Regions from separate parts of the Homo sapiens genome. Here all the other regions are linked to region 1. Evidence: fine-mapped expression QTL. A gene starts in region 1. Each other region holds a variant in brackets. All regions are shown on one strand. Distances are between the middles of the regions.

Region 1 (2,771 bases):
CGTCCCCAATCCCCCCGCAATCATTTACAGGACTCTTTCCACAAGCCCACGAGCCCCTAGACTCATAGATCCCCATTTAGGAAATTGGTGTAAGGTATCACCAGATTCTGAGCCAGAATAGATACTCAAAAAAAAAAAAAAAATGACTACATAACAAAGAAAAAGATAAAAATTTCAAAAGCAGTATCACGTTTTGCTAATGAAAAAAGAATTTAATTCCAATGACAAACAAAACCAGCCAAACATGTACAGAAACAATAGTCCTTAAAAAGTCAATTTAAAAAATGGGTAAAACACCTGTCCACACTATCCTTCCTCTAAGAAACATAAATGGGGCAAGACTCAAGCAAAACTAATCGTCGAAGTCTACTCTGCTCTCCTTACTGACCTCCCGGACAGGATAATAACTTTAAGATTTACTGTATTAATCGCACTAAACTTCTCTCATGTAGGCAATTTCTTTATTCCTCATTCCAATCCTGTGTGTAGATACTATCACCACCTCTACTTTGCAGATGAGAGAACTAAGGCAGAGAGGAACATAAAGCACTGCCACAAAGTGACAAACCAGGATGCACAGGCCGCTAAGACTGCAAAGCTGGGGAAAGCAGACAGGGCGGCCCGCCTCATCACCCGATTCCGCAATCAACCTACCACGGATCAAAAATATTTGCGATGGAAAAAAATAAATAAATAAAACATACCAATAAAAACTACAAAAAATTTTAAAATACAGTATAACAACTATTTACAGATCACTTACATTGCATTCGGCATTACAAGTAAGCTAGAAACGATTTAAAAGATTACGGAAGTGGGTAGTTTATATGCAAATACCACGCCATTATATAAGGGAGTTGAAGGAACTTGAACATCGTGGTATACGGAGGAGGGGCTGGAACCAAAGCCCCGGGGATACCGAGGGACGACTGTACTTAGAAAACCTAGTGACAGAGATTCTATAGCGACCCCGACCCCGACCCAAGACCATCATCCTGCAGATGCCACTGTGCCCAAGGCAGAGCCCCGCGAGGAATCCAGCCCCGAATCCCTGCACCCCAAGTCCCAACGCGGCGTTAAGGATACCAACAGCCAGGATCTTCCCTTCCAGCGCTTCGGGGCTGACCTGCCGCCCGGAGCACTCCAGCAGCTTCCAGAGCCCCTGGACCCCCATGAGGCGGCTGCGTCCTAAGAGCGGACCCCGACAACTTCTACTCTAATTCTTCTACGACGGACTGCACCGCCGCCTAGGACCCCGGGAGGAAGCCCTCCCTGCTCCTACACAACAAAGATGGCAAATAATACAGAAGCCACGGTTTTCCAGTGGGGGACGGCACTAATGGGAGCGCATTAAAGCGGAGAGACTCTGGCTGCAACACGTCTCAGCAGCTGTCACCGCCTCCCGGAAGAAAGACAGGTCCAGAGAATGGCCGTTGGCGGGGAGGGGCAGGGCCTCGCCTCGCCCAGCGCTTAGGCCCAAACGTCTGCGCCGCTAATGGAAGACCGGGGTGCAAGGGCCACGCAGGCGACGGAAACAGCCAGAAGATGTCCCTGCGACACCTCCCGCCTTCGCTGGTGGGTCCGCAAACCCATGAAAAATGGGCCCGCTCGGTTTCCGTCTAATACGACGCGCAGGGCGGAAGCTCCGCCTCCGCACATGACGTATATTTTCTGCGCTTGCAGCACTCCGGAAGTGAGAAGTTTAGCGCCAGTGGTGATGCCTTGGTGGTTACTTGCTTCCGTCACGCTGGCATCCTGAAGGCGTTAAGCATTAAAACAATGTGCAAAAGCGCCTTCTTGGTGGAGTAACGGGCTTTTGTTTTTGTTTGAGACAGGGTCTCACGCTGTCGCCCATACTGGAGTCCAGTGGCGCATTCTTAGCTCACTGCAGCCTGGAACTCCTGCTGCCCGAGCTCAAGCAACTTTCCCATCTCAGCCTCTCAAGTAGCTGGGACCGCAGGTGCGCACCACTATGCTTGGCGAATTATTTTTGTAGAAATGAGGTCTCCCTGTGTTGCCCAGGCTGGGAACTATTTTCTACACGCTTTTTTAGTATCGGTTTCTACCTTTGCGCCGCCGTGTGTGAAGATACTTAACACAAAGTGTTGTTTTACACGTGAAGAGACAACCAAAAGGTGGATGCCTTCTTGGTTTTGTACTATTTATTTATATGCTAGCACGTAGTAACTAAAGAATAATAAAATTTAAAGCCTGTGAAAATGTTAGGGTCCCAAAATTACTAAGCAAAAGGGAAAAGTCAAGCTGGGAACTGCTCAGGGCAAAACCTGCCTCCCATTCTAGTCAGTCATCCTTCTGCTCACTGAGATAGATGCATATTCTGATTGTCTCCTTTGGAAAGGCTTATCAGAAACTCGTATGCAGCCTTTTGTCTCTCATCTACCTGTGACCTAGAAGCCCTTCCTGCTTCCGAGTTGTCCCCACCTTTCTGGAAGGAACCAGTGTACTTACATATGTTGATTGATGTCTCCTGTCTCCCTAAAATGTATAAAACCAATCTGTGCCCCAACCACCTTGGGCACATGTCATCTGGACTTCCTGGGGCTGTGTCACAGCTGCGCGTCCTTAACGTTGGCAAAATAAACTTTCTAAATTAACTGAGACCTGTCCCAAATTTTGGGGGTTCACAAGCCTTAATCCTTGACATATAGTTTAGTTTTCTTCAGCATCTAAAAGTTATAATGCCGCGGCTTGTAGATCAGAAAGGACTAGAAATCAATTAACAGAGTAACCCCAGAAAAGGCCACAGCTCT
Region 2 (2,771 bases), 34 kb before region 1:
TTCATTATTTCTTGAAAACTAGATAGATAATACATTAAAATATCAAATGGTAATAATTCAAAATATGTATGGAGTGCTTTTATAGTTTCTTAATAAAGCTTAACTTCAAATACAGCAGACAAAATTATATTAAAATATCATATATTAACGAAGCGTGACTTAAGAAAGACCATCTAAACACTATCTAGAACAAATTAAAATCAGAACAAAAGCTTCTGAGTCAGAAATTTTAAAAAGCTACTACAGAAAGAAAACATATTCTTCACCAGAGACTACCTCAGTTGTAACAAAGAAAGGCATCATCTTCATATTGACTAGTAAGACTGCAATCCTAAAATTTAAGAGGCGATTAAAACATTGAAAGTTCACTTGTTACCATCAATGCATCATTAGCACCTATGCAATGTCAAACAGCCTCATTGCCAGATAATCTTTTGAGCAGCGTCTACCTTAAGGAGTCCATACCATCACAGCCGATATATTTAAAACTGAAGAAACTATTTATGCCTCTTGAATAGAGCAGATTATCTGAATAAATTTAACAGTTATTCAAACTTTAGAAAATAACGATTTGATATTTTACTTCTCAATCTGGGGTAAAATAACAATTGCAGTACCATGAATTAATATAGCACTCCTTTCTTCCGAGAATCCCAAAGCACATTTTACAGCCACCACATTTTCTTTTACAGCATACTTCAGCAAGTTAGAAGACATTATTTTCCCTACAGTTTGCAAATCAGGAAAACCAAGGTTAAATTATGTCATTGAGGCTACACAGCTAAAACGATAGCAAAAGTGGTCACATGTTTTGCTCCCAATTTAGATCTCTTCCATTAAAGAAAGACATGTCTGCCTTAAGGCTGATATTTAAATGGAAAGCCTGGACATACCTAAAGGAGTTAGCTGAGTTTCTAGAAGGTTAAAATGTATCATCCACAATTTTTGTTTTTGCTGCTGGGACCTCTGGTAGTGACTGAAAGGCTAGCATCGCAGCACAGTTTACTACTATACACACTCGCTACCACTGGTAACGAGTCCAGGCAGAAGGGATTAGGATTCTGACAGCTGCAGCTCCCACGCCTCTGGTTATACAGCAGTGAGACGGCAATGCCCGTAACTAAGGGGGCAGAAGGCTAGGAATATCCCACGAGTGTCTCGTGAACAGAGCTAAAGGTGAATACAACCCACTCCCGGAAGTGAGTGAAGACTATTTGGAGGAAGTGATCCAGCTTTTAACTTGGATGCCAAGAGTTA[T/C]TCTAAGACTCCGTGGCTATGACATTCTAGGAAATGAACGCTACATATTTTTCATGTCACCTATCTGCATGGGAACACTGTCTTTAGACTCCAACAACCATACTAGAATGTCTGTAGCATTGCTCTGCACCCAGAAATCAAACTACCATGATTCCTTTTTATTCAGACTGAATGGGCAGGCTCCGAACATAGATCCATCTGTGCACCTGCCCAAGTGCATGTATGTGTGCCTCTCAGAGGACATACACATTTCCCATGCCACTGGAAAGATCCCTGATAGAAAGTTACAGAGTTAAGATAAAGCAATATTGGAAAGTTAAACTTAGGAGTGTGACTACAGGTCCATAATGTATACACAGATGAATCGAGGTCACTTTAATGTATTGGAAAGGGCTAGGAGTTGGGAAGCCTGATTTTAGTTATTCCTGCCTATAATTAGATTGTGATTTTAAGCCATTTACTTAGTATGTTTCTTGGTTTCATCATCTATAGAACAAGTATATATCGGCAGGGTGCCTTAGCCTTTGGGAGACCAAGGCAGGAGGACCACTCAGCCCAGGAAATGGAGGCTGCAGTGAGCCGTGGTCACACCACCAAACTCCCGCCTGGGTAGCAGAGCAAGACCCTATCTCAAAAAAATATAAATGTCTTTTAAAAATGATACAAAAGTCATACAACATATATTTGTGGGGTGAATATTATAGGTAAAAACATTCTGGAAAGTTCAAAATCCTAAGCAATGTGAACTATTATTCATAGGCAGTTAACTTGGGGCAGAGGATACTCTTTCTTTGGGGCTTTTTTAAAAACAAAATAAATGACGAATAAAAACCATTGTCTTTTTTAAGGATTTTTTTGAAAGATCATGCAATCCTCACTGTTAGATCTCTTAAGAGGCAGAATCCCTCAATCAAGCATCTTAACCAACATGACTGTTTAACAAATACATACAGACTTCTGCCTCCAGCTGTAAGTAGCTTATAGCAAACCTCAGCTTCTATTAACAATGAGAAAAATAGATTTTTAAACACACACACACACCCCACACAAACATGCCTCTGTTATAAAGTATCAGAGAGCTGTCAAGGCAGCCAAGAATTCCAGGCATTGCTGTTTCCTGAGGAAGCCAAAGAGAAGACCGCATGTAAGGATAGCAGCGGAGCATCAGGCAATCTCACAGAACTGTGGAGACAAAAGAAGAGTGTGGCTGCCAAGACAGTCAGATTTGTGGGCCCAAGATCCCAGAAAAAAGGGAGAGAGAAGCCTGACGCTTAGTGCTGACTATTCAGTCGAAGAATTGACTGATTAAGCTGTTTAGGGCAAGAGGCTAATTTTTGAAGCATTCAGTGGCAAAAGCAGATCCAAGCGCAAAAGAAGAAACATCAGGGCACTCCTGGAAAGTGACTTTCCTGGAATACGGGTGAAACTAGAAGCTGGAGTCTTACAGAAAAAACTGCAAACTAGCCTTCAATCTACTTTGTCCTCGCTGGCTGCACTGAGGTGATCTTCCCCTC
Region 3 (2,771 bases), 39 kb before region 1:
TCTTTAAAACATATTTACATTTTTAAAAGAGTTTAGAAACATAAAAACACAACAGAACACTTTGTGGGCTACTTTATACAATAAAATTGTATATACATAATTTTGCAATGATAAGCACTCAGGTGTGCTACCCACAGTTACACAGGCATAACAGTTATGAGCAGAGAAATTGTATTCATAAAGAAATCACTTATATAGTTTGGTCACTTGAAATATCCTGATGAACAACCTAAGTCTTCTGATGAAACAGATCCAAACCTACAGTGGAGCTGAATGCAGTGGCTCACGCCTGTAGTCCCCGCTACTCAGGAAGCTGAGGTGGAAGGATCGTTAGAGCCCAGCCTGGGCAACATAGTGAGACGCCCCTTGCTAAAAAAATTAAAATTAAATACCAACAATGGGTCACCACCACATATACAGTCATATACAGTTGCCTAAAGAGCTGAGATATTGAAAAATGTTATCTTTCACAAATGCAGATGCAGAAAAAGGATATCCCTTTATTTATTGAGGAAGTTTTAAGGTTTTTACATATATATGCACAATGCTTACACACAAGGTCAGTGTTATTAAAATGCACTTCCATGGAGTCAATTTTGCAAAAAACAAAAAGTGCATAAAACAAATTAGAACTCTCTAAAAGCTCATACAATTTATGCCTCTAGTTTTGGAAATGTAAAGATGAAACACGTAGCATACCATAGTGAGTTGTAAAAAATAATGCTGATGATTTAAAATGGTGAGGAAAAAAACTTTAAAAAAGGAAAAAGAAAAACAAAACCTTCCCAAAGAAACTAAAAAGAAAATTCAACATATGAAAAAGCGCATTACAGGGATAAATTATGGGCAACTGCACGGAGGTAGCCCATAAGAGCTGGCCGACTTCCACAATCATTAACTGTATTCTGAAGTCTTGCGTGGAGATGAGTAACTGTTTCTTTTCTTTTAGGACATGGCTCTTCTTGAAGAATACATTCACATTGATTTTCTACATGATGCTGCTCTTTTTGAAATTCTAGTTTTATTCAATACACACTGACATGAGCATTTTCTATTAAATTTCCTATCTCTGTGTCATGCTTCTGTGTTGTTTTGGGTACATGGAAATCCTTTGCTCATGCACTCATATACAGACCACAGATTTGGCTGAAACAATACTGGTGAT[C/T]GAACAGCAACATCATTGTGTGCTTTCTTATCCTACCATGCACATAGTTATTTTAGAGTCAGTAACTTTGCTGGCTTCATCAGGCAAATTCAGCTTTAACTCATTAAGACCTCCTAGAATTTCATCAGCTAGAAGGAATGCCAATGCAGACAAATAATGCGTTATAAACTGAAGTTTTCCATGTTACTATATTCTACAGGCAATCCATTCATCTGAATTTTCCGGCAAATGTATTGGGCTGAATGGAAAAAGAAACTGTTGCTAACACCTTGAAATCCACCTTTAGAAGTTTTGATGGCACCTAATTCCAAATCTATCATTATGGTTTGGGAATTCAATTAGCTGTAAGGGCATTTGTTCTTTGGGGATTTCAACATTCAGGATCATGGCATTTTGGATTGTGTCTTTAGGGATTATAATGAATATTACACAAGGTGCATGGAGGGGAACTATAGAAAATAAGCCTGAAGAAGTAGGTTGGGATTAAATTTATGTGCAACATTGACCTTTGTTCTATAAGGTGAGGAGGAGCTAATAAAGATTATTAGAACAGGAATTGACATGATCAGATTTGATATTTAAGAACTACATCTGACAGCAGGAGCTGAAGAACTGGTGACCTTACAAGCTAATTAGAAGATTATTGGAACAGTCTAGATGAAAAATGACAAGAGTCTAAATGAAGGCCTTGGGTCAAGGAGCCAAGTATGAACGTGTGTGCTTTCAAAGTGGTGGTATGCCTCCCCTAGGGGTGGACAATTGACATTCAAACTTGACGTTCAAATCTGAGTTTTGAAGACATCTGAAGTAGACTGGTATATTCAAGAGTTATTTTTATTCAACATGTAGAAAATTTATTAGTCTTATCTGGAAGATAATTATTCATGTTACTTGTAAAATGTTTAAAATGTGTTAATAAATTATTCTCACTTTAGTAATTATATGTGCTATAGTACTCCAACTAGTATATTAAATATATTGCCTCAGACTGTAGTTTGATAGGTTTCTTAAAACAGTGGTAGAATTACATAAATTTCCATATATATTAATGCAATACTGTTTATAAAAACCATATTACCCATTAATCCAATTCTGCAAAGATTTATGAAGATGCTCCTGAAAATTTTTAATGTGATGCCTTGAGGAGAACATTATATTAGGTCCTGAAGGGAGTCAACTGACTTATGATCAGAAATACAAGATCATCACTCATGAGCAAATTTAAGTCAGCCAATACGGTTATGTTATAGCTAATTCATTCATTCATTCATTCACTCACTTATTAAGTACCTGGGCACTATGAATTAGAAGGCAGACCAAGTGCTATATAAGAGAGGTTCAGTAAAAGTGCTATAACAGAGACTTCAGTAGGCAATGCAAAAATGGAAAGTTCCACCTCTCAGAGAGCTCAGGAAAGAATTATCTGAGCCTTCCTAATTATGAGTTTGTCAAATAGGAGAAGGGAAGACCTGCCATATACAGGAAATGACATGTGCAAAAGCCCACTGGCAAAAAGTCTCCTGACCAATTTTGGAAACCCTGAGAACCAGAATATAGGATAAATGAGGATAGTAGCACAAGGTAAAACACATTACACCATACTAAG

Evidence for each region. PIP is the estimated chance that this variant, and not a neighbour inherited with it, causes the effect.
Region 2: its variant is fine-mapped to the expression of ERCC5 in whole blood (TOPMed, PIP 0.97).
Region 3: its variant is fine-mapped to the expression of ERCC5 in whole blood (TOPMed, PIP above 0.99).

Annotation. Positions count from the first base shown.
Region 1 is chr13:102,844,670-102,847,440 of GRCh38, reverse strand. It overlaps ERCC5 (ERCC excision repair 5, endonuclease), which reads right to left and starts at 1,409. Exons shown (of 15, transcript NM_000123.4): 1 at 1,087-1,409. The coding sequence starts at 1,174. All of the region lies in intron 9 of BIVM-ERCC5 (BIVM-ERCC5 readthrough), which reads right to left. RefSeq lists a silencer at 621-670 and enhancers at 832-1,654, 1,021-1,810, 2,021-2,070, 1,655-2,479.
Region 2 is chr13:102,878,335-102,881,105 of GRCh38, reverse strand. It overlaps the pseudogene METTL21EP. Among named protein-coding and RNA genes, the nearest start is that of ERCC5, 34 kb to the right of the region's middle. The variant T/C (reference allele first, on the strand shown) is at 1,258.
Region 3 is chr13:102,883,793-102,886,563 of GRCh38, reverse strand. It overlaps the pseudogene METTL21EP. Among named protein-coding and RNA genes, the nearest start is that of ERCC5, 39 kb to the right of the region's middle. The variant C/T (reference allele first, on the strand shown) is at 1,166.